Homo sapiens: one gene and its partner. The protein of the gene in region 1 interacts with the protein of each later gene in a biochemical or structural test. Each region holds a gene or a part of one and is shown in the gene's direction. Other genes may lie near its edges. The genes, in order: DLD and OGDH.

The links.
Region 2: the proteins of DLD (region 1) and OGDH form a complex in vitro, tested with the Homo sapiens proteins (one study listed by BioGRID).

Annotation. Positions count from the first base shown.
Region 1 is NC_000007.14:107,899,156-107,910,930, forward strand, and holds part of DLD (dihydrolipoyl dehydrogenase, mitochondrial isoform 1 precursor), read left to right. Parts: intron 1-2,582; coding exon 2,583-2,662; intron 2,663-3,169; coding exon 3,170-3,238; intron 3,239-4,322; coding exon 4,323-4,392; intron 4,393-5,802; coding exon 5,803-5,903; intron 5,904-6,205; coding exon 6,206-6,349; intron 6,350-7,111; coding exon 7,112-7,213; intron 7,214-11,775. UniProt on the Homo sapiens protein: Lipoamide dehydrogenase is a component of the glycine cleavage system as well as an E3 component of three alpha-ketoacid dehydrogenase complexes (pyruvate-, alpha-ketoglutarate-, and branched-chain amino acid-dehydrogenase complex).
Region 2 is NC_000007.14:44,697,396-44,707,634, forward strand, and holds part of OGDH (2-oxoglutarate dehydrogenase complex component E1 isoform 1 precursor), read left to right. Parts: coding exon 1-102; intron 103-208; coding exon 209-387; intron 388-796; coding exon 797-868; intron 869-2,745; coding exon 2,746-2,874; intron 2,875-4,147; coding exon 4,148-4,220; intron 4,221-9,829; coding exon 9,830-9,993; intron 9,994-10,186; coding exon 10,187-10,239. UniProt on the Homo sapiens protein: 2-oxoglutarate dehydrogenase (E1o) component of the 2-oxoglutarate dehydrogenase complex (OGDHC). Participates in the first step, rate limiting for the overall conversion of 2-oxoglutarate to succinyl-CoA and CO(2) catalyzed by the whole OGDHC.

The DNA of each region.
Region 1 (11,775 bases):
GTGTATACTTCCCCTAAATACTGGTTTGTTTTTGAAAGTTTGTTCCTGGCTTATACCCTCCTGTATTCTCAGTTGACAGATCTTTACATAAAGAGTCTGCTTTTTTCTCATTTTTGTGCATCTTAGCACTTTAGTGGTATTGTAATGGAATATTACATCTAGTATGTACAGTGAGAGAGGAGCTCTTGAATTTTTGGTATTTTCTGAAGTTTAAAAAAAAACACCTAAGATTACATAGTGAATAGGGAAGTAAAACCCAAGGTTTTTGGCTATTATCTTTTATCTCTTGTTTACTTCTCCTGACCTTACTAAAACAAGTTCTTTTCCAAACCAAATTTATTTATCATTTTAGTACCATGGACCTACTATAAGAATTGTTACATATCAGTGATTAAAAGTATATGCTCAAAAATACATATACTTAAAATCTAAAATATTTAATTCAGTTTTATTGTCATTAAAAGGGTTTTTGGAGAATTATAGCAGTAATATATGTTATAAATATATATGCTCATGTAAGAGTGAGAAAAGAATATAAAATATGGCAAAAATTGAATTTTATAAAAACTTTCCTAGAAGAAGGATTGGGAGGACCTATAAACAGTTCTCTCTGGGCTGTATGGCAATGTGGATGGGTTGTTTTTTTTTTAATTTTGCTTTAGTGTATTTAAATTTATTCAGTAAACCTAAATTTTTAATCAGAAAAGACATTAAAAATTCAGCAAAGAAACCTGTTTTGTAGCTTGTATTTACATTACTCTGAAATTAAAAATTAGAACCCATTTAAGGGATGTTGTGTAGATCGTCATTTGGTTCAAGATTTGAAAATAAAAATACATTTTATTAGATACTTAATTCTGAACCGAAATCAGTGAACCAAGCAGGGTGGCTAAAAAGCACAGATGGATCAGTAAAAATTGAAGCAATTTTTCATGTATTGAAATGACTATACATATTTTTTCATGTATTATCTCAATTATCATCTGCTATAACCAAAGAGAATCTAGTATTTTCATTTATTCAACAGGAGGGATTCTTAGATTTTGTGGATAATTGGGCTGAGTAACTTAGTTATCCACCAACACAGAGGTTCTGTGATTCTGTTCAGGCCAGCAAAGGTTTTTTGAATGATCCTACTCTAGGGATGTGTGTTTTTGGGGAGAGGGGGTGATGCAAATTAAAATAGTCTTCTTTGTAGGTCAGAATATAGCTACTATGTATAGAATACTTATTATGTATGCTATAGGTACTATGCTAAATTATTTACATACATTATTTTATTCTGTTATCACCCTATGAAGTAGGTTTTTTTTGTGGTCTTTCTTTTGCCAGGTATGGAAACAAAGATGAAGCAGGTTAAATTACTCACCTAAGGTCACATAGGTAGTGATTATAAAGCTTGATTATTGCTCTCTGGAATTTTAGTTTATGATGGTTAAAACTGAGGAATGGAATAGTATTGAATAATGGAAAGACCACCGGAAGTAGAGTCAAAAAGCTTAGTTTGTCTCTGCAACTCACTTGCTGGTTAACCTTAGACAAGTTAATTGACCTCTCTGAACTTCTTGTTTATTCTGTGAAATGTCTTATTTATGACATCTTTATCTTCCTCATAGGAAATTCTGAGACTCAAACATGATAATATATGTGAATATGTGTTATGAATTGCTAAATGCTAGACTAGTTGGGGTTGTCAGGACAGTGGAAGGGGAAGAAAAGGGAGACTGTTTCCTAACTCTTAACAGTCACTGTTACTTTATTTGAAGTTGGATTGAGAAGAATGGGAGTAATTGGACTTACTTGCACATTTGTATTACAATTGTTAAACTCCTAAGGATACTGATCAAAATTAATTTTCAATTTTTTATCTTTATTTGAAAAATGGCCACAATAGTTAATTGAATATTCTGGTTAGCCTATTATCTTAAGGTATGTAAAAATTATCAATATGCAAGTACAAAACATATTTGTTAAATATTACATAGAAGCTGTTTTTTCCCTCATATTTCAGAAGTTAAGGACCTGAAAAAGGTAATAGGTCTTAAATTTATTGGAAATACTAAAGCATTATATAAAATTATCTTATTTAATTCTAACATCAATCATTGAAGGCAGTGTTTTCATCCCCATATTACAGAAAGGTTAAGTCATTGGGTCAAGTTCATACAACTACTCATTGGCCGTGCTGAGATATGAAGCCCAGAATGTCAGATTCCAAAGCTCAGGCTCTTTGCTTCATACATACTTGTCTTCCAGTATCACTAAATTCCGTCAGTTATTAAATCAATAGAATTTAGGAAGGTCAGTGAATACAATGTGAGTGTTACAGAACTCAGTTGTGTTTCTGTATGTTGTAATGAATAGAAAATAATAGAAAATGAAATTTGAGTATTTATGCCATTTTTCAGTAGCATCAAAGAGCATCAAGTAGTAGTAATAAAATAGTGCAGAAACTATGTAGAAAATGCTGATTTGTACTGTAAGAGGTTTAAGTATCGGGTTATTTGTTTGCTCTTCCAAAGAGCTCTTTTTGGTAAATATTAAGCAATTTACTATTTTATATCAATTTGCTTTTATCGTAGTTGATGCTGATGTAACAGTTATAGGTTCTGGTCCTGGAGGATATGTTGCTGCTATTAAAGCTGCCCAGTTAGGCTTCAAGGTAAGGTTTGAACTCAAACTAAGTATTGATTTATTTTAATTTGGGAAGGGTTGATCATATTTATAAAGTACTTTGCAGGCAAAAACATGGTAAATACTTCCTTAACTCTATAAATTACTTGTAAGCCTGAGACTAATAAAGATTAGGTTCATTTGGTTGTAGTATTCTCTTGGAATGGAAAGTGAAATCTATTAGTTTTCTTCTCTTCCCAGTACTTTTCATTTTGGCATCTAATCACACTTTGGAAGATACAGTGATAGAACTAAAAGCATATATTTGGTAATGTTAAGCACACAAAAATATCTTTTAGAATAATTCACTTTTGGGTCAGCCCAAAAGTGTTTATTATTATTCAAATGATAAATTATAAAGGACTATATATTTTAGTCTGTGAAAACATAGCCCGAATAGCTTGTTTTGTAGAAGAATTAAGACATATATTTGGAATTTTAGTGATCTGAAACATTGAGGTTATGTGCAGTTAAATAATGTTTTCTTTGGTTGTAGACAGTCTGCATTGAGAAAAATGAAACACTTGGTGGAACATGCTTGAATGTTGGTTGTATTCCTTCTAAGGTGAGCATGTGTTTTGTACAGCACAGAGATTGTTTTTGGCTAGCAACCAACTAGAAGGATGGATTGAGACTAGATTAGACAAATACACTTGTTAAAAAACAATCCAAGTTGTGGCACATTTCACACAGAGAAAAAAAAGAATGATAAAAAACACACTTCTCTTTTGTAAAACTTAAAGAGTGCTGTCACTAGTCTGCCACACATTCCTGAAATAACTTCCTTGTCTCAGAATGCCTAGCTTTCCATTCAAACAGACTCTGATGTTCTAGTTTTTTCTCTTTATCTTTCCTTCACCAGTGTAACAGATAATAGATAGTAAATTGTTCTTTTAGGTCCTTTTTGTATGTAAACATGACTGCCTTTTTCACCTGCCACCCTGAAGTGTGTACTTATGCCTTTACTTTTAAAGAAAGTAAAAATGTCTTTTTCATTCTTGTTTGTTGAATGTTTTTCACATCATTATTGTTTGTCTTTGATTAATAAGAGAAACTGAATTGGTGTAGTGCCATATACTATTCCATGTAGAGAATGCCATGTCTTTTTTTTAACTTCTTTTTAAATTTTTATTGTAAATTGACAAATTACAATTGTATATATTTATGGCATACAAAGTGGTGTTATGATTTATGACTATAATGTGGAATAATTTAGTCAAGTTAATTAACATATTCATTACCACAGTACTTATCATTTTTGTGATGAGAACATTTGAAAGAGAATATCGGCCGGGCGCGGTGGCTCACGTCTGTAATCCCAGCACTTTGGGAGGCCGAGGCGGGTGGATCACCTGAGGCTGGGAGTTTGGGACCAGCCTGACCAACATGGAGAAACCCCATCTCTACTAAAAATACAAAATTAGCCAGGCGTGGTGATGCATGCCTGTAATCCCAGGGACAATTGCTTGAGCCCGGGAGGCGGAGGTTGCGGTGAGCTGAGATGGCGCCATTGCACTCCAGCTTGGGCAATAAGAACGAAACTCCGTCTCAAAAAATGAAAAGAAAGACTATCATTTCATAAGTGCTTTTTGATTATTTGAAGTCTGTTTATGAATATTTGATAATTTGATCTTTTTAATTTCCTTTAGGCTTTATTGAACAACTCTCATTATTACCATATGGCCCATGGAAAAGATTTTGCATCTAGAGGAATTGAAAGTAAGTATACTTTTCATGCTTAATGATATTACCAGACTGCTTGACTTGGCTCTTCTGTCTAAAGACTTAAATGTGTCTAACGTACGCATAATAGATGTTTAGTGAAGGAAGAGTAAAATAAATAATCTAAAAAATGTGGAGAGATTTACTTAAAAAAGAAGGCCTAAATCCAGATTTCTCCCAGCCAAGTATAACCAAGCCTAACCCTGCAAATCCAGATTTCTACCATTATATCTTCTGTTCCTTTGCCAACTTTTTCCTGAGGTTTGCCTTTATGTGTTTTTGAAGAGTCAGTTTTCATTTCCTAAAATCTGGAAATCACTGAGAAGGCTGGATTCCTGAGTACTATGGGGAGATAGAGGAAGGAAGGAAGGCCCACTTAAGCTGTTGATAGTAGAAAAATTAGAGGAGAGAAAGAGTGAGGCATAGCGGAAAAGGAAGAGGACATTTCATAACGTATCTTGTCTCCTGACATACTTTTTGAGCTGTTTTAATCTTTTGTCTCCAATTATTGTTGTTGTTAGATACTTCCAGAAAGGTAGTCTCTTCTGGGCAGGACCTAGTCATAACCTTGGGTTGTTACTTTTCCTTCATTTGTTTCTTTACAGAGGTAGGTTTGAGGGGCTACTTAAGGCAATCCATTGGGTATAGAGATGATGTATATGCACTAAAGCAAATAGAATATCATACTAGTTGAAAAATGGAATGACGTAAAGAAAGAAGAGCTAGGGGTAGTCAGGAGACCTGCATTGTAGGCAAGGCTTTTACATCCTAGCTCTGTGACCTTGGGTAAATCAGAAATCTCTCAGAGTCTCTTTTTCCTTATCTCTAATATATGTGTTGGTTATATGAGGTACTTTCTAAGATACCCTTCTTACCTCTAAAGTTTAATTGAGTTGAGCATTTTTATCTAATACTGTTGCTTCAGAGTTCTCTTCTGAGTTGAATGAGTGATTAAAACCTAGGTGATTAAACTTTTTAATGTTAAGCTTCTGTATTTGAAATTTTTAAACGTGTATTTTTTATTTGTTTTGTTTCATGAAATCTAGCATTTTCCTTTATTTAAAATTTCAGATGATGTTTTACTTTGTCATTTCTACTTACATATCTTCCAGACTTATAACCATCGTAAAGTGTTCAGAGGATATGTTATCACAGTGGGATATAATGTTTTATTTTGGACTGCCTTTTTACCCAAGGTAGACATTTTATAGTGTTTGATAGGTTCTGTTTCTGTGATACAATGATGTTGGCCTTTTGTCAACTATAATTATAAGTTATTACATTTTGAAACTTTAATACTGCCTTTTATAAGCATTAGGTTGAAATTTTCCAGTTGGTGAGTGAAAAACACTGCATATTGCTTCAAGAATTTAGCTAAGAACTAAAGATTAATTGAACAAATTACAGTGTCCGAAGTTCGCTTGAATTTAGACAAGATGATGGAGCAGAAGAGTACTGCAGTAAAAGCTTTAACAGGTGGAATTGCCCACTTATTCAAACAGAATAAGGTCAGTGTTTAATATTCAGATTTCTGCTTTACTTTGAATACAAATTAAACTTTGCATTATAGAGTGATGATATTTGAACTTGGTTACAGGGGAATATTTATTTAATTTAAAATAGCTTGCTAACCTGAAATAGATTTCCCTGACATATATCACAGATTTTTTTGCTGCACCATGGTGTAGCATTACTAAGTAAGGAAGCATTTTGTTTTAGATAAATTATTTACAGAGTAATTTTTCCTTTGAATGATTTATCAAACAAATTACTTTAAACTTTGTGAATTTATAAAGATTATTTTGTAAAGGTTGTTCATGTCAATGGATATGGAAAGATAACTGGCAAAAATCAAGTCACTGCTACGAAAGCTGATGGCGGCACTCAGGTTATTGATACAAAGAACATTCTTATAGCCACGGGTTCAGAAGTTACTCCTTTTCCTGGAATCACGGTATTTATGCTTCATAATTTACAACCATTACAACTTTTCTTTAGAAATACGTTTTATAAGTTATTTATGCTATTTGTGAACTTTGAGAGATTTCTGACTGAAATACTATATTTTGATGGTCATTCAGCTTTGGGAAGTTACCTGTCTTTATTCTGCAGTGATTCTGACCAGCTATAGAACACTTTATATTAAGATATGTTTGAATACAGTATGAAGTTAAAATTGACCATTGCGTTTGGAATATTGGTGGATAAAATTTAAAGTCAGTGTTTTTAATGGGATTTGATGAAATTAGGTATATAGATACCTCAAAACAAATAAATGACTTAGTATTTTTAGTGATTCTACTGAGATCACAGTTTATAAATACATTTATCTCTTCATATCCTTGGAGGATTGGTTCCAGGACCCCCCTTGGATACCAAAACCCACAGATGCTCAAGTGCCTTACATAAAATGACATAGTATTTGCATATAATCTGCATACTTCCTCCTGTATACTTTAAGTCATCTCTGGATTACTTATAATACCTAATACACTGTAAATGCTATGCAAGTAGTTCCTATGCTGTATTGTTTAGGGAATAATGACAAAAAAACCATGTGTACATGTTCAGTACAGATGCAACCATCAATTTTTTTCCTGAATATTTTCAATTAATGGTTGGTTAAATCTGCAAATTTGGAACCCATGGATATGGAGGGTCGACTGTACTAGGTTTTTTCAAATTATTTTGATTATATCTTTTGTTTTTCTTACAGATAGATGAAGATACAATAGTGTCATCTACAGGTGCTTTATCTTTAAAAAAAGTTCCAGAAAAGATGGTTGTTATTGGTGCAGGAGTAATAGGTGTAGAATTGGTAAGTGTTGTCTTTCTGCCTCTTATTACCTCCTTGGAGTTGGAAGGGACTTAAAGGTCCCCTTTTTGATTTTTTGTATAACATTACAGGCTGATCAGCATTGAGTTTTGCTTAAACACTTCTAGTAATAAAGAGTTTACTTTTGTTTTTTTCAAGACAACCTATTTATGTATTTACTCATTTAGAATGTTCTCCTTTATTTTAGTCTGTTTCCTTGTACCTTCCACCCTTCCATTTCCTAGAACTGGTCGAATTCTTTTTTAATATGACAGCCATTCAGATATTTGAGGACAGCTTTTATCCTGGGCAAATTGCATTCCAAATAAAGATTATTCTCTTTACCATCACATACATGATTTGGCTCTTCCCTTCTCTATCCTCATCTTGATGCCTCTTAACTTAGGTTTTAGAAATGTCAAACTACTTGCATTTCTTTGAACACCATGTTATTTTAGACCTTCTGTCTGCCTTGTTCTCCCTTCTTGTCCATCTGGCAGCTTTCCACACATTTCCAATGACCTCCCTCCATTTTAGAGTCACTGTGCCTTGTAAACACCAGGAATTGCTCTACTTCTGAAATAATAAATTCAGATATTTTATTATGTAACCATGACCTCCTTTCCTCTTTTACTCAGTTATTCATAGTGTACTTTGTACCCTTTTTTAGGTTTTCTAGTCCATAGATCTACTTTTTTGCAATCTTCCCTTTCCAATCTTGACTGCGTTCCTGATCAGCTTAGATGCCATAGTCCATCACTTTAACCACACTCTTACAGATGTCCTTGAGTTGCTTGTCTCACTGTTCTGTCATATCTGCTTGGCAAAACTCTAGTTCGGTTTGAATGCAGCAGTCTGCCTTTTTTATGCTATTTCCAGGCTGTTGACTACACCTGGAGAAAAACACACCCTACTCATTGGTACTTGTATTAATTCTTGGCACAAACCTTAACAAGAACCTCAGCCTTGCTGACAGTTTATTATTTCCTAAGATGGTACACTGCCCTGGTCTCTGCAATGGCCATTTTCATTTTCTACTCTTCTCAAATCTCTGCTTGTATACTGTCTGCTCTGCCTGTGGATGACCTTGTCTTTTAAATATTACATAAAAGAGAAATCAGATGAGAACTCCCTCAAGTTGATGTCCTAAATTTGATAATGCTTTTACCTGTTGTTACACCTATCCTTTTGATTACCTCTCCTATTACTGTGGAAATGCCATTTTCCCTAAGACTAATCCCTTTACTTGTGCTTGGTAGCACATCATCTGCCTTTTCAGAGACTTGGTTTTGTGATTTTTATTCTTGTATTTTTCAGTCTTCAAACTCCTTCCTTTTATTTACAATTTCATGTGCTTCTATGTGTGTACCTGTGATGCATTTGCACTCATTAACACAGGTTTGTGTGCACATAAATGCTCCTTATCTTGGTCCCATGTCCTTCTTGAGTTACCAATTTTGTTCGCACTTTTCCTTCAAAACCCAGCTTCTCAAAAGAGTTGTCCATGCTTTATTTCATCAACTTCCACTCACTCAGTCTATGGCTTGTGCCAATAAATTGCTCTTAGGGCATGAATCTATTTATTGCTCAATCTGTTGGACTAATTTCTTCACTGCTTTATTTGGCAGTAATTAGCATTGCTGATTTTCTTGCCTTTGAAACACTTTGCCTAACTTCTGTGATTTCATATTCTTCCATTTTTACATCTGCTCTTTGGGCTGAATTCTCCATATTATGCAAGTTCCCCTTTCTTAGGCTTCCCTTTAATTGTTAGTATTTTTGTTTTTCTTTTTTTTTTTTTTTGAGTCCGAGTCTTGCTGTGTCGCCCAGGCTGGAGTGCAGTGGCGCGATCTCGGCTCACTGCAACTTCTGCCTCCCGGGTTCAAGTGATTCTCCTGCCTCAGCCTCCCAAGTAGCTGAGACTACAGGCGCCCGCCAGCACGCCCGGCTAATTTTTGTATTTTTAGTAGAGACGGGGTTTCACCATATTGGTCAGGCTGGTCTCGAACTCCTGACCTTGTGATGCGCATGATGGTTCATGTCTATAATCCCAGCACTTTGGGAGGCTGAGGCAGGCAGATTGCTTAAGCCCAAGAGTTTGAGACTAGCCTGGGCAACAATGTGAGAACTTATCTCTAAAAAAATGTAAAAAATTAGTTGGGCATGGTGGTGTGTGCCTGTAGTCCCAGCTACTCAGGAGGTTGAGATGGGAGAATCACCTGAGCCTGGGAGTTTGAGGCTGTAGTGAGCTGGGTCATGCCAGTGCACTCCATCCTGGGCAAAAGAGTGAGACCCTGTCTCAAAAAAAAAAAAAAACCCCAAAACAAAAATCAGCTTTTAAGTTATCTTTTTAGTGAATAATTCTTTCTTCTAAGAAAGCTCAAGTCTTTCATTTTTTGAGTCCTTAGTATAATATATCTACATTTCCATAGTACCCACTAATAATAATACATTGCATTTGTTTGTCTATGGCTGACTTTCCTATAAGACCAAAGCTCCTTGAAGGCAGGACCGAATTTTTAATTCCTATTTGAATCTCCATTGTTTTTCTTAATGTTTAGTACTTAGGTCTCCTAGACAGCAGGTCTGTTATTTTGTCATCAACCTTTGGATCCTGTCTAGTCCGTTAAGAAAACTTGTAATCTAAACATAATGTTCTGGGTTGTAGAGAGTACTTCTTTTGATATGCATAGTATACTTCTTGTAATGTAATGCTTTGAAATCAGTTTAGTTGTTTTTATAAAGCAGACATTGAGCTTATGTTCAGATAAAAACCACATTTTTTTCGCATTTGGAATTCTGATTTTTTAAACCTAAGTGACTTTGAACCTTTATTCTTGCTTTAATTTAATCTTGTTCACTCATACTCATTATTCCAATCTATATCTTAGTCTTGATTCTGTCACTCTTATACTTAACTGCTTTTACTTTTCATAGTTCGTAAATTTTGGAAGTATGACAATTAAGGCATGCAGTCCCATCATCTGATCTGATCTTGGTTAAGCAAACTTCTGTTGTCATTCACGTCATTAGTACAAATTTTTGACCAGGATGAAACATCGAAAGCCATCTGACAGTACAGTCTTTCACCAGTTATAAACACCTTTGATGTTTATTCATCTTCGTTTCTCCATCTCATCTACAAGGATATCATGAGATTTTCTTAAAATTTTTTTTAACACCTTGCTGATATCAAAATATACTACATTCACCAGTCCAGAAACCCTTCAGAAAGTAAGAGTGGTTTATGTGACCTGTTTGGAACACTTGTGGTAGTGTCTACTGATTGTGAAACCAGCTGATTAATAATGTCTTCTAGTATTTAGCAGAATCTCTTCTTTTCCATTTTTGAAAATTTAGGCATATTTGCCTGTCTGCCACCTTTTGGCAGTTCCCTTGTGCTAAGTAAGTTCCCAGAGTTCACTGAGAGTGCCTGTTTTGTCATACTCTAATTGGGTTGATGGGAGAATTAACTTTTTTTTTTTTTTTTTTTTTTTTTGAGATGGAGTCTCGCTCTGTAGCCCCGGCTGGAATACAGTGGCATGATCTCGGCTCACTGCAGCCTCCACCTCCCAGGTCCCAGTTCAAGCAATTCTCCTGCCTCAGCCTCCTGAGTAGCTGGGATTACAGGCACGCACCACCATACCCAGATAATTTTTCTTTGTATTTTTAGTAGGGACGGGGTTTCACCATGTTGGCCAGGCTGGTCTTGAACTCCTGACCTCATGATCCGTCTGCCTCGGCCTCCCAAAGTGCTGGGATTACAGGCATGAGCCACCACACCCAGCCGGGAATTAACTCTTTAAAAATGACCAGTTGTTCTTAATCTTGGGCGTTGCCTCTTGGTTAATAATATTTCTTCTGTTCATTCTACTTTGTTCTCATAGTTGGATAAAACAAGAAAAAAGGAATAACATTTACTTTCTTTTGTTGGTCATTATAATATCTCGAAGCAATAATTCTATTTCTTCATCTCAGCAGTTTTGCTTTAGGTTTTTTATAAGCCTTGAGTCTTTTGACACAATGATTTAGATACCTGTTACTGTATTGAATTAGTTTTTACATGTCTTTTTAAAAACTTATTAGAGAATTTACTGTGTAGTCATGATATCTATTTATTTTCTTGTAAAGATTATTCACATAACTGTATTTTCATTTTTTATATTTTGCCTTTCTTCCATTCCAGTTTAGTGTAGTGTTAAAAAACATCTTTTTTGGAATTGAACAGATTTAAATTTGAATTTCAACTCTGCCTCTTACTGACTTATGTTCTTGTTAATGAGCCACTCTGAACCAGTTGGTTTGTCATCAAAAAGGGGATAAAAATAACTAACTTACAGGAGTATTGCTGGGATTTAATACATTTAAAACACTTAATGCAGTGCCTGGCATTTAGTAAGCTCTAAGTAAGTGGTAGATGCTATTGAGTTTTCCTATCTATAAGTATTTTGAAATCAGTTTTCCTAAAGAGTAGGGCACTTGTCTATGCTCATCACTCCCTACTTTGAATTAGACTCCAAGATGATGTTTCTTATTTCCACACTCCCATTATTTCCCCTCTATTT
Region 2 (10,239 bases), about 63 Mb from region 1:
AGAATGTGGACAAGAGAACCTGCATCCCCATGAACCATCTCTGGCCCAATCAGGCCCCCTATACTGTGTGCAACAGCTCACTGTCTGAGTACGGCGTGCTGGGTGAGTGCCTGGAGCCACACCACCAGGGCCTGTCACCCACCCACCCCCGCTGGGCCTACTGGCTGGTGTCCTGGACATGGTTTTCTCCTTCCTTTGTCCCTTGTAGGCTTTGAGCTGGGCTTCGCCATGGCCAGTCCTAATGCCCTGGTCCTCTGGGAAGCCCAATTTGGTGACTTCCACAACACGGCCCAGTGTATCATCGACCAGTTCATCTGCCCGGGACAAGCCAAGTGGGTGCGGCAGAATGGCATCGTGTTGCTGCTGCCCCATGGCATGGAGGGCATGGTGAGCCTCTGGCCCTTCCCTGCCAGACCTAGGACTTGGGAAGGGCCTGTGTAGGACCCTGACCCCAAAGACTGGCACGAGAGCCAGTGGCTCACACCAGCCTCCTAAGGACTCTGCTGGTGCTTCCCATCCATCTCAGATGGGATGTCACTTCAGAAAGCCAGAGTAGCCCATCTGGATGTGGCTAGCATGCCCCGTCCCTGCTGGTGCAGACTCCCTAGATGCACAGGCGTCCAAGTGTGGAAATGATGAGCCAAGTGCTTTGCTGGTGGGAGGGGGAAGGAACTGAACCCTGCCATCAAGAAAAAAGATAACCAGAAATGAGCTAGTTGGTTGAGGAGGAACAGCAGATGCGGCAAATGTCAGTACGCAAGAGCTCTTAAACTGTAACTTGCGTGTGTGGTTCCAGGGTCCAGAACATTCCTCCGCCCGCCCAGAGCGGTTCTTGCAGATGTGCAACGATGACCCAGATGTCCTGCCAGTGAGTAATACAGGCCCTGTCAGCCCAGCCATTCTCGGGGTGTCTGGTGGGAAACCTGGGGAAGAGCAATCTATCTGGTCATCCTGAAGTGGCAGACCGTGCCTCTGTCCCTTTCTCCATCCTGGGGAGCTCACGTGAGTGGACAGGTGTGGCCCCATGCTTCTGGGCGCCCTGGGATGAGAGACTTCCTCAGAGCACAGAGGAAGGTGCAGGGACTGCCTCCATTGGCTTCCTGCTGTTGCTGCAAGCACAGAAACGCCATGTGAGCTCCTCAGCAAGGGCTCCTGCGGGATGCTTCCAGACCCTGATTCAGGTCTGGAAGCCCTGAGGAGGAGAGAACTTTGGGGCGATTCCAGTGAAACTTTAAGAACTCAAAGAACCAGCCTGGGCAACATGGTGAGACCCCGTCTCTACAAAAATTTTAAAAAGTAGCTGGGCGTGATGGTGCACGCCTGCAGTCCCAGCTACTTGGGAGGCTGAGGTGGGAGGATTGCTTGAGCTTGGGAGGTCAAGGCTGCAGTGAGCCAAGATCGTGCCACTGCACTCCAACCTGGGTGACAGAGCAATACCCTGTCTTAAAAAAAAAAAAAAAAAGAACTGTGCTGGGTGTGGTGGCTCAAGCCTGAAATCCCAGCACTTTGGGAGGCCCAGGCAGGCGGATCATGAGGTCAGGAGTTTGAGACCAGCCTGGCCAATATGGTGAAACCCTGTCTTTACTAAAAATACAAAAACTAGCTGGGCATGGTGGCGCCCACCTGTAATCCCAGCTAGTCTGAGGCTGAGGCAGGAGAATTGCTTAAACCCGGGAAGCAGAGGTTGCAGTGAGCCAAGATTGTGCCGCTGCACTCCAGCCTGGGCAGCTCCGTCTCACAAAAAAAGAACTGGCCAGGCGCAGTGGCTCACGCCTGTAAGCTCAACACTTTGGAGGCCCAGGCAGGTGGATCACGAGGCCAGGAGTTTGAGACCACCCTGGCCAATATAGTGAAACCCCGTCTCTACTAAAAATACAAAAATTATTCAGGCGTGGTGGCGGGCACCTGTAGTCCCAACTACTCAGGAGGCTGAGGCAGAGAATCGCTTGAACCCGGGAGGTGGAGGTTGCAGTGAGCCAAGATTGCGCCACTGCACTCCAGCCTAGGCGACAGAGGGAGACTCCTGTCTCAAAAAAAAAAAAAAAAAAAAAAAACTCAAAGAAAATGATTAGGTGTCAGTGTCTAAGGAAAATTGGTTTTAGGTAGAACTTGTGTCTCTTAAAGTGGTATTTGTTTCATGCTGGGCAATAGCTTTCAGAGAAATAGTATGGATTGAGTGGGACTGAGGCTCTCCTCCAGGGTATGAGGCTGGCCGAAGGAGCTTGCTGGACTCACTTGTTAGTGTCAGCTTATGTCTCCTGGGGAGTCAGTGTGTTAGGCCATTCTTGTGTTGCTATAAAGAAAAACCTGAGACTGGGTAATTTATAAAGAAAAGTTTAATTGGCTCACAGTTCTGTAGGCTGTACAGGAAGCATGATGCTGGCATCTGCTCAGCTTCTGGGGAGGCCTCAGGAAGCTTACAATCATGACAGAAGATGAAGTGGGAGAGCAGGCATGTCACATGGCCAGAGCAGGAGTAAGAGAGTGGGGGAGAGGGGCCACACACTTTCAACAACCAGATCTCGTGTGAACTCAGAGTGAGAGCTCACTCATCACCAAGGGGATGGCCCAAGCTCTAATCCTAACACCTCCCACCAGGCCCCACCTCCAGCAGTGGGAGATTACAATTCAACATGAGATTTGGGCAGGGACAAATATCCAAACTAGATCACCTGAGGGCCCCCACATGCCCCAGAAGACTCAGTGCTGTGTCCTGGCCTCTGGCCATTTCCTTCCCTGCTGCAGGACCTTAAAGAAGCCAACTTCGACATCAATCAGCTATATGACTGCAATTGGGTTGTTGTCAACTGCTCCACTCCTGGCAACTTCTTCCACGTGCTACGACGCCAGATCCTGCTGCCATTCCGGAAGCCGGTCAGTGGCAGGGCCTCCCTTGCTCAAACGAGGCCTGGCCCTGCCCTGTTGGTGCAGGGAAGGGCTCCTCAGAGAGCCTCTTGCTTGGGGTTAGCTAGGTGGGCACCTGCAGGGGTAGTGTGGACAGGACATGGTGTCAGGGAGCCTCGCCCTTCCTCCTCACTGCTGCCATGAGGGAACTGCGTGTTCTGTGTGTCCTCTTCCCCGACTGGGCCCCTGCATACTGCTGAGCACCACATGCGGAGCAATCACATAGGCTGCAGGCCCCAGCCCGGTGGGGAGGACGGATGTTTGAACAGGTGGTCATAGGGGGTGTGCTGAGCTCTGGAAGAGAGGTGAGCCCTGGCAGAGGCCAAGGGAGTGCAGGGTCCCCAGGGAGCGGCTCCTGAGCTGGGTGTTGAAGGGTGAGTAGAAGTTGAGTGGAGGGATACGTTGGAGAAGTGATTCATAAAAAGGAAGGAGGCCGGGCGAGGTGGCTCACGCCTGTAATCCCAGCACTTTGTGAGGCCGAGGCAGGTGGATCATGAGGTCAGGAGATGGAGACCATCCTGGCTAGCACAGTGAAACCCCGTCTCTACCAAAAAAAATACAAAAAAATTAGCCGGGCATGACAGCGGGCACTTGCAGTCCCAGCTACTTAGGAGGCTGAGGCAGGAGAATAGGAGAATAGCGTGAACCCGGGAGGCGGAGCTGGCAGTGAGCCGAGATCGCACCACTGCACTCCAGCCTGGGCAACAGAGCGAGACTCCGTCTCAAAAAACAAAAAAAAGGAAGGAGTGTGGGGGACAGCGAGGGAGTGCCCTGCTGCCCTGGGATACCGCGGGGGTGGGAGTATGGGGTGGAGGCTTGCAGCTCGGAGTGTCCCCAGCAGTCCAAGGGCCCACAGGGCAGGACAGCCCTGGTGCTTCTTGGTGCTGGGCCATGTCACAGCCTTACATGGGCTTTGGGTGCATTTGCTCTGAGACTGCCAAGGAGAGGGTCAGAGCTCTTTCCTAGGTACAGAGAAGCAGGGAAGGGAGTATTGGGAGTCCGAGCAGGCTGGGATGGGCCCTGCCAGGAGTGGATACCCAGCTAGGGGAGGTGAACAGCAGGGAAATTGGTCATCTTTCCTTTTCCCTCCTTCTCTGCCTCTTCTGACCTGAGGCTCCTGTTGAGTGGGAGGGCAGGTGTGTTTCATGGCCTGAAGGTCAAGGCTTGGGTAGCCTTGCTTTTGACCTTCCTTCTGGAATCTTCAGAATCTGATCCTTCACGAGCCTATTGTTCTGTATTTCAGTTAATTATCTTCACCCCCAAATCCCTGTTGCGCCACCCCGAGGCCAGATCCAGCTTTGATGAGATGCTTCCAGGTGGGTGTGAGGGAGATGGGCATTTCCTTGGGGGAAGCTATGTTTGGGGCTTCTTTGCTGCTGCTCTTTTACAGCTCATGGGACTGACATTTGTGATTCTCACTGGCTCTTGCCAGATTTTTGGTTGTAAAGACCCGTGATACATGGCTGGGCACAGTGGCTCACGCCTGTAATCCCAGCACTTTGGGAGGCCGAGGCAGGCAGATCATCTGAGGTCAGGAGTTCGAGGGCAGATCACCTGAGGTCGGGAGTTCGAGACTAGCCTGACCAACATGGAGAAACGCCATCTCCACTAAAAATACAAAATTAGCCAGGCGTAGTGCCACATGTCTGTAATCCCAGCTACTCAGGAGGCTGAGGCAGGAGAATTGCTTGAACCCAGGAGGTGGACGTTGCAGTGAGCTGCTATCACGCCATTGCACTCCAGCCTGGGCAATAAGAGCAAAACTCCGGCACAAAAAAAAAAAAAAAAGTCCCATGATACCAGATGAGGGAGGTCACAGCTTACATTCACGTTGGTCAAATGACATGTCTTAACATGCAGCCCAGGAGCTGTTGCCTCTCACCTGCAAATGCCCCCAAGGACTCCACTAGAGGCAATTAAGTATGTCCAAGATTGAGGGTTAGTGCCGCTGCCTGCGGCCTCCTTCAGCAGGTGAGTGGCAGCTCACCACTGGCTCAGAGGCCCAGCCCCAAAGCAAGCCCTTCAGGACAGAGAAAAAAACACTGGACGGCAGGTCCTGCCAAGTCACATGCCAGCTGCACTTGTGTGAAGGGAGACCCATAACATTGAGATTTCTATAGGGACAGTGGAGTGCAGGATGTTGACACAGCCTTTACCACCCACCAGGGGTCACCAGGCCAGGAAGCCTGCATCCCACCAGTCACCAAACCCCCTTTAGTCTTCAATCAAGGTGAGCCCCTTGTTTTTTGGGGGTTTTTTCCCAATCTTTTTTTATTTTTAATTTTATTTATTTATTTATTTATTTATTTTTGAGACGGAGTCTCGCTCTATCGCTCAGGCTGGAGTGTGGTGGCACAATCTCGACTCACTGCAAGCTCCACCTCCCGGGTTCACGCCATTCTCCCACCTCAGCCTCCCAAGTAGCTGGGACTGCAGGCGCCCGCCACCACGCCTGGCTAATTTTGTTTTTGTATTTTTAGTAGAGACGGGGTTTCACCGTGTTAGCCAGGATGGTGTCAATCTCCTGACCTCATGATCCACCCATCTTGGCCTCCTAAAGTGCTGGGATTACAGGCATGAGCCACCATGCCCAGCCCCCAGTCTTTTTTTATTATGGTAAAATACACAACATAAAATTTACCATTTTGACCATTTTTAAGTATCCAGTTCAGTGTGTTACTGCCTCTATAAATTTGACTACTCTATGGAACTCATAAGTGAAATCATACAGTCTTTGTCCCTTGCGACTGGCTTGTTTCATTTAGTATAATGTCTGCGAGGTCCATCCATGTTGTGTAGCATGTGTCAGAATTTCTTTTTTTTTAAGACTGAATAGCCAGGCATGGTGGCTCATGCCTATAATCCCAGCACTTTGGGAGTTCGAGGCAGGTGGATCACTTGAGGTCACAAGTTTGAGACGAGCCTGGCCAACAGGGTGAAACCCCGTCTCTATTAAAAATACAAAAATTAGCAGGGTGTGGTGGTGCACGCCCTGCTACTCTGGAGGCTAAGGCAGGAGAATTGCTTGAACCCGGGAGGCAGAGGTTGCAGTGAGCTGAGATTGCACCACTGCACTACAGCCTGGGCAACAGAGTAGGACTCCATCTCAAAACAAAACAAAACAAAAAAGACTGAATAGGCTGGGCCCAGTGGCTTACACCTGTAATCTCAGCACTTTGGGAGGCTGAGGCAGGTCGATCACTTGAGGTCACGAATTTGAGACCAGCTTGACCAATATGATGAAACCCCATCTCTACGAAAAATACAAAAATTAGCTGGGCATGGTGGCGCGCACCCGTAATCCCAGCTACTCAGGATGCTGAGGCAGGAGAATTGCTTGAACCTGGGAGGCAGAGGTTGCAGTGAGCCAAGATTGCGCCACTGCATTCCAGCCTGGGTGACAGAGACTCCGTCTCAAAAAAAATAAATAAATAAACTAGCCGGGGGTGGTGGCGCATACCTGTAATCCCAGCTACTCAGGAGGCTGAGGCAGGAGAATCACTTGAACATGGGAGGCAGAGGTTGTGGTGAGCCAAGATCACGCCGTTGCACTCCAGCCTGGACAACAAGAGCGAAACTCCGTCTCAAAAAAAAAAAAAGACTGAATAATACTCCATTATATGTGTATGCCACATTTTGCTCATCCATTCATCTGTCGATGGACACTTGGGTTGCTTCCATGTTTCAGCTATTATGATTAGAGGAGCTGCTATGAACATTGGTGTACAAATATTTCTTTGAGTCCCTGCTTTCAGTTCTTTTGAATATGTACTCAGAAGTGGAATTGCTGGACCATATGGTAATTCTATTTTTAGTTTTTTGAGGAACTGCCAAACTTTCCACAGTGGCTGCATTTTACATCCCACCAACAGTATATGAGGATCCCACCATCTCTACATCCTCATCAGCACCTACTATTTTCTGGTTTTTTCATAGTAGCCATCTTAATGGGTGTGAGATGATATTTCATTGTGGCTTTGATTTATATTTCTGTAATGATTAAGTGATGTTGAGCATCTTTTCATATGCTTATTGGCCACTTGTATATCTTCCTTGGAGAACTGTCTATTAAAATCCTTTTTTTTTTTAATTTAATTTTTTTTAAGAGACAGGATCTCTCTATGTTGCCCAGGCTAGTCTTGAACTCCTGGGCTCAAGGAATCCTCCTACTTTGGCCTCAAAGTATTGAGATTACAGGCATGAGCCACGGTACCCAGCCTATTCAAATTATTTGCCCATTTTTGAATCTGGTTGCTTGTTTTTGAGTCTTAAGAGTTCTCTGTATATTCTAGATATTAATTCCTTATCAGAAATATAATTTGCAAATATTTTCTCCCGTTCTATGGGTTGTTCTTTTATTCTGTTGTTAGTATCTTTGGTTTTGGTTTTGGGTTTGGGTGTTTTTTTTGTTTGTTTTTTGTTTTTTTCCGAGATGGAGTCTTACTCTGTTACCCAGGCTGGAGTGCATTAGTGCAATCTCAGCTCACTGCAACCTCTGCCTCCCAGGTTCAAGTGATTCTCCTGCCTCAGCCTCCCAAGTAGCTGGGATTACAGGCGCACGCCACCATGCCTAGCTAATTTTTGTATTTTTAGTATAGACAGGGTTCCACCATGTTGACCAGGCTGGTCTTGAACTCCTGACCTCAGGTGATCTGCCCACCACAGCCTCCCAAAGTGCTGGGATTACAGGCGTGAGGCACTGCACCTGGCCTGTTGTTAGTATCTTTTGATGTACAAAAGTTTTTAATTTTCTTTTTTTTTTTTTTTTTTTGAGACGGAGTCTCGCTCTGTCGCCCAGGCTGGAGTGCAGTGGCGGGATCTCGGCTCACTGCAAGCTCCACCTCCCGGGTTCACGCCATTCTCCTGCCTCAGCCTCCCAAGTAGCTGGGACTACAGGCGCCCGCCACTACGCCCAGCTAATTTTTTGTATTTTTAGTAGAGACGGGGTTTCACCGTTTTAGCCGGGATGGTCTCGATCTCCTGACCTCGTGATCCGCCCGCCTCGGCCTCCCAAAGTGCTGGGATTACAGGCGTGAGCCACCGCGCCCGGCCAAGTTTTTAATTTTCATGAAGTCAGATTTGTCTATTTTTTCTTCAGTTGCCTGTGACTTTGGTGTCATATCTAAGAAATCATTACCAAATTCAGTGTTGTGAAACTTTTGCCCTATGTTTTCTTCTGAGTTTTATAGTTTTTGCTCTTATGTTTAGATCTTTGACCCACTTTGAGCTAATTTGTTTTGTTTTTTATTTTTTGTTTGTGTTTTTTTGAGACAGAGTCTCACTCTGTCATCCAGGCTGATGCAATCGTAGCTCACTGCAGCCTCAATTCCTGGGCTCAAGTGATCCTCCTACTTTGGCCTCCCAGAGTACTGGGATTACATGTGTGAGCCACTGTGCCCAGACTTTTATTCTGTTTGTATCATAAATGGAATTGTTGGCCTAATTTCCTCTTCTTATTGTTCATTGTTAGTGTATAGAAACACAACTGGTTTTGGTTACGTGCATATGATGCGTAGTGCTTAAGTCAGGGTATTAGGGTGTCCGTCACCCGAGTACGATACATGTTTGTTAACCTTACTCCTTTATCAAACGTTGAACTTAATTCCTTCTATCTAACTGTATGTTTGTACCATTCAACCCACTTTTCTATATTTTTTTGAGATAGATTCTTACCCTGTCACCCAGGTTGGAGTGCAGAGGCATGGTCATCATGGTTCACTGTAACCTCTGCCTCCCAGGCTAGAGTGATTCTCCCACCAAAGCCTCCCAAGTAGCTGGGAACACAAGGTGTGCACCACCGTGCCTGGCTAATTTTTGTACTTTTGTAGAGACGGAGTATCACCATGTTGCCCAGGCTGGTCTCGAACTCCTGAGCTCAAGGGATCCTCCTGCCTCAGCCTCCCAAAGTGCTGGCCAACCCACTGTTCTCTATCTGAATATTTTCTCTGATTGTGTTGAAAGTTTTTATATTTGTAAAATTCTGAGCAGCAGAAACAGAGTAAACATGGGATTTTTTTTATATAATTTTTTTTTTTTTTTGAGATGGAGTTTTGCTCTTGTTGCCCAGGCTGGAGTGCAATGGCGCATTCTTGGCTCACCACAACCTCCGCCTCCCGGGTTCAAGCAATTCTCCTGCCTCGGCCCCCCGAGTAGCTGAGATTACAGGCATGCGCCACCATGCCTGGCTTATTTTGTATTTCTAGTAAAGACAGGGTTTCACCATGTTGGTCAGTCTGGTCTCGAACTCCTGACCTCAGGTGATCCGCCTGCCTCAGCCTCCCAAAGTGCTGGGATTTACAGGCGTGAGCCATGCGCCCGGCTGGTATTTTTTTTTTTTTTTGTCTGGAGATGGAGTCTTGCTCTGTTGCCCAGACTGTAGTGCATGATCTCAGCTCACTGCAACCTCTGCCTCCCGGGCCCAACCGATTCTTCCACCTCAGCCTCCCGAGTAGCTGGGACCACAGGCGCACACCACCATGCCTGGCTCATTTTTTGTATTTTTTTAGTAGAGACGGGGTTTCACCATGTTGCCCAGGCTGGTCTCGAACTCCTGAACTCAGGCAATCCGCCCGCCTCAGCTTCCCAAAGTGCTAGGATTGCAGGCGTGAGCCACCGCACCCGGCCGGGATGTTTTAATAATACTCTTGTCCCCGAAGTCTGAGCCAAGCTGTTTTGAAGGCTAGCCTGGTGTTACTTGATACCCAGAGCTGGCCATGTCTGCTGTGTATTTGTTACACGTAACGTGCTTTTCAAAGTGTGCCTGGTCTGAGCAAATACAGGGCATCAGAGGCTGGTGAAGGGGAAGCATCTCTAACCCTTGAAAGCTGCGTCTCCTGGCAGCAGTCCCTGGCACAGCCCTGGGCCCAGGAGAGCTCTCAGCCACATACCTGAGAGAACCAGCCTAGCCATGGGAACTCTCTTGTAGGAACCCACTTCCAGCGGGTGATCCCAGAAGATGGCCCTGCAGCTCAGAACCCAGAAAATGTCAAAAGGCTTCTCTTCTGCACCGGCAAAGTGTATTATGACCTCACCCGGGAGCGCAAAGCACGCGACATGGTGGGGCAGGTGGCCATCACAAGGATTGAGCAGGTGAGGGCAGGTGGTGCCATCAGGGTGTCCCCCCAGCGGGGGTCAGGGCTCTGGTGCCTTCACAGAACAGCCTTGCTTGGGGTGTGGCCCTCAGGTTCCTGACCTTCCCTGCTCGGAACACCAGTTTCCCTTTGCTGGATCTTGCCTGCCCTCTGAGTTTCCTCTTTTTGATCTGACCCCTGCTGTCTCCTAGCTGTCGCCATTCCCCTTTGACCTCCTGCTGAAGGAGGTGCAGAAGTACCCCAA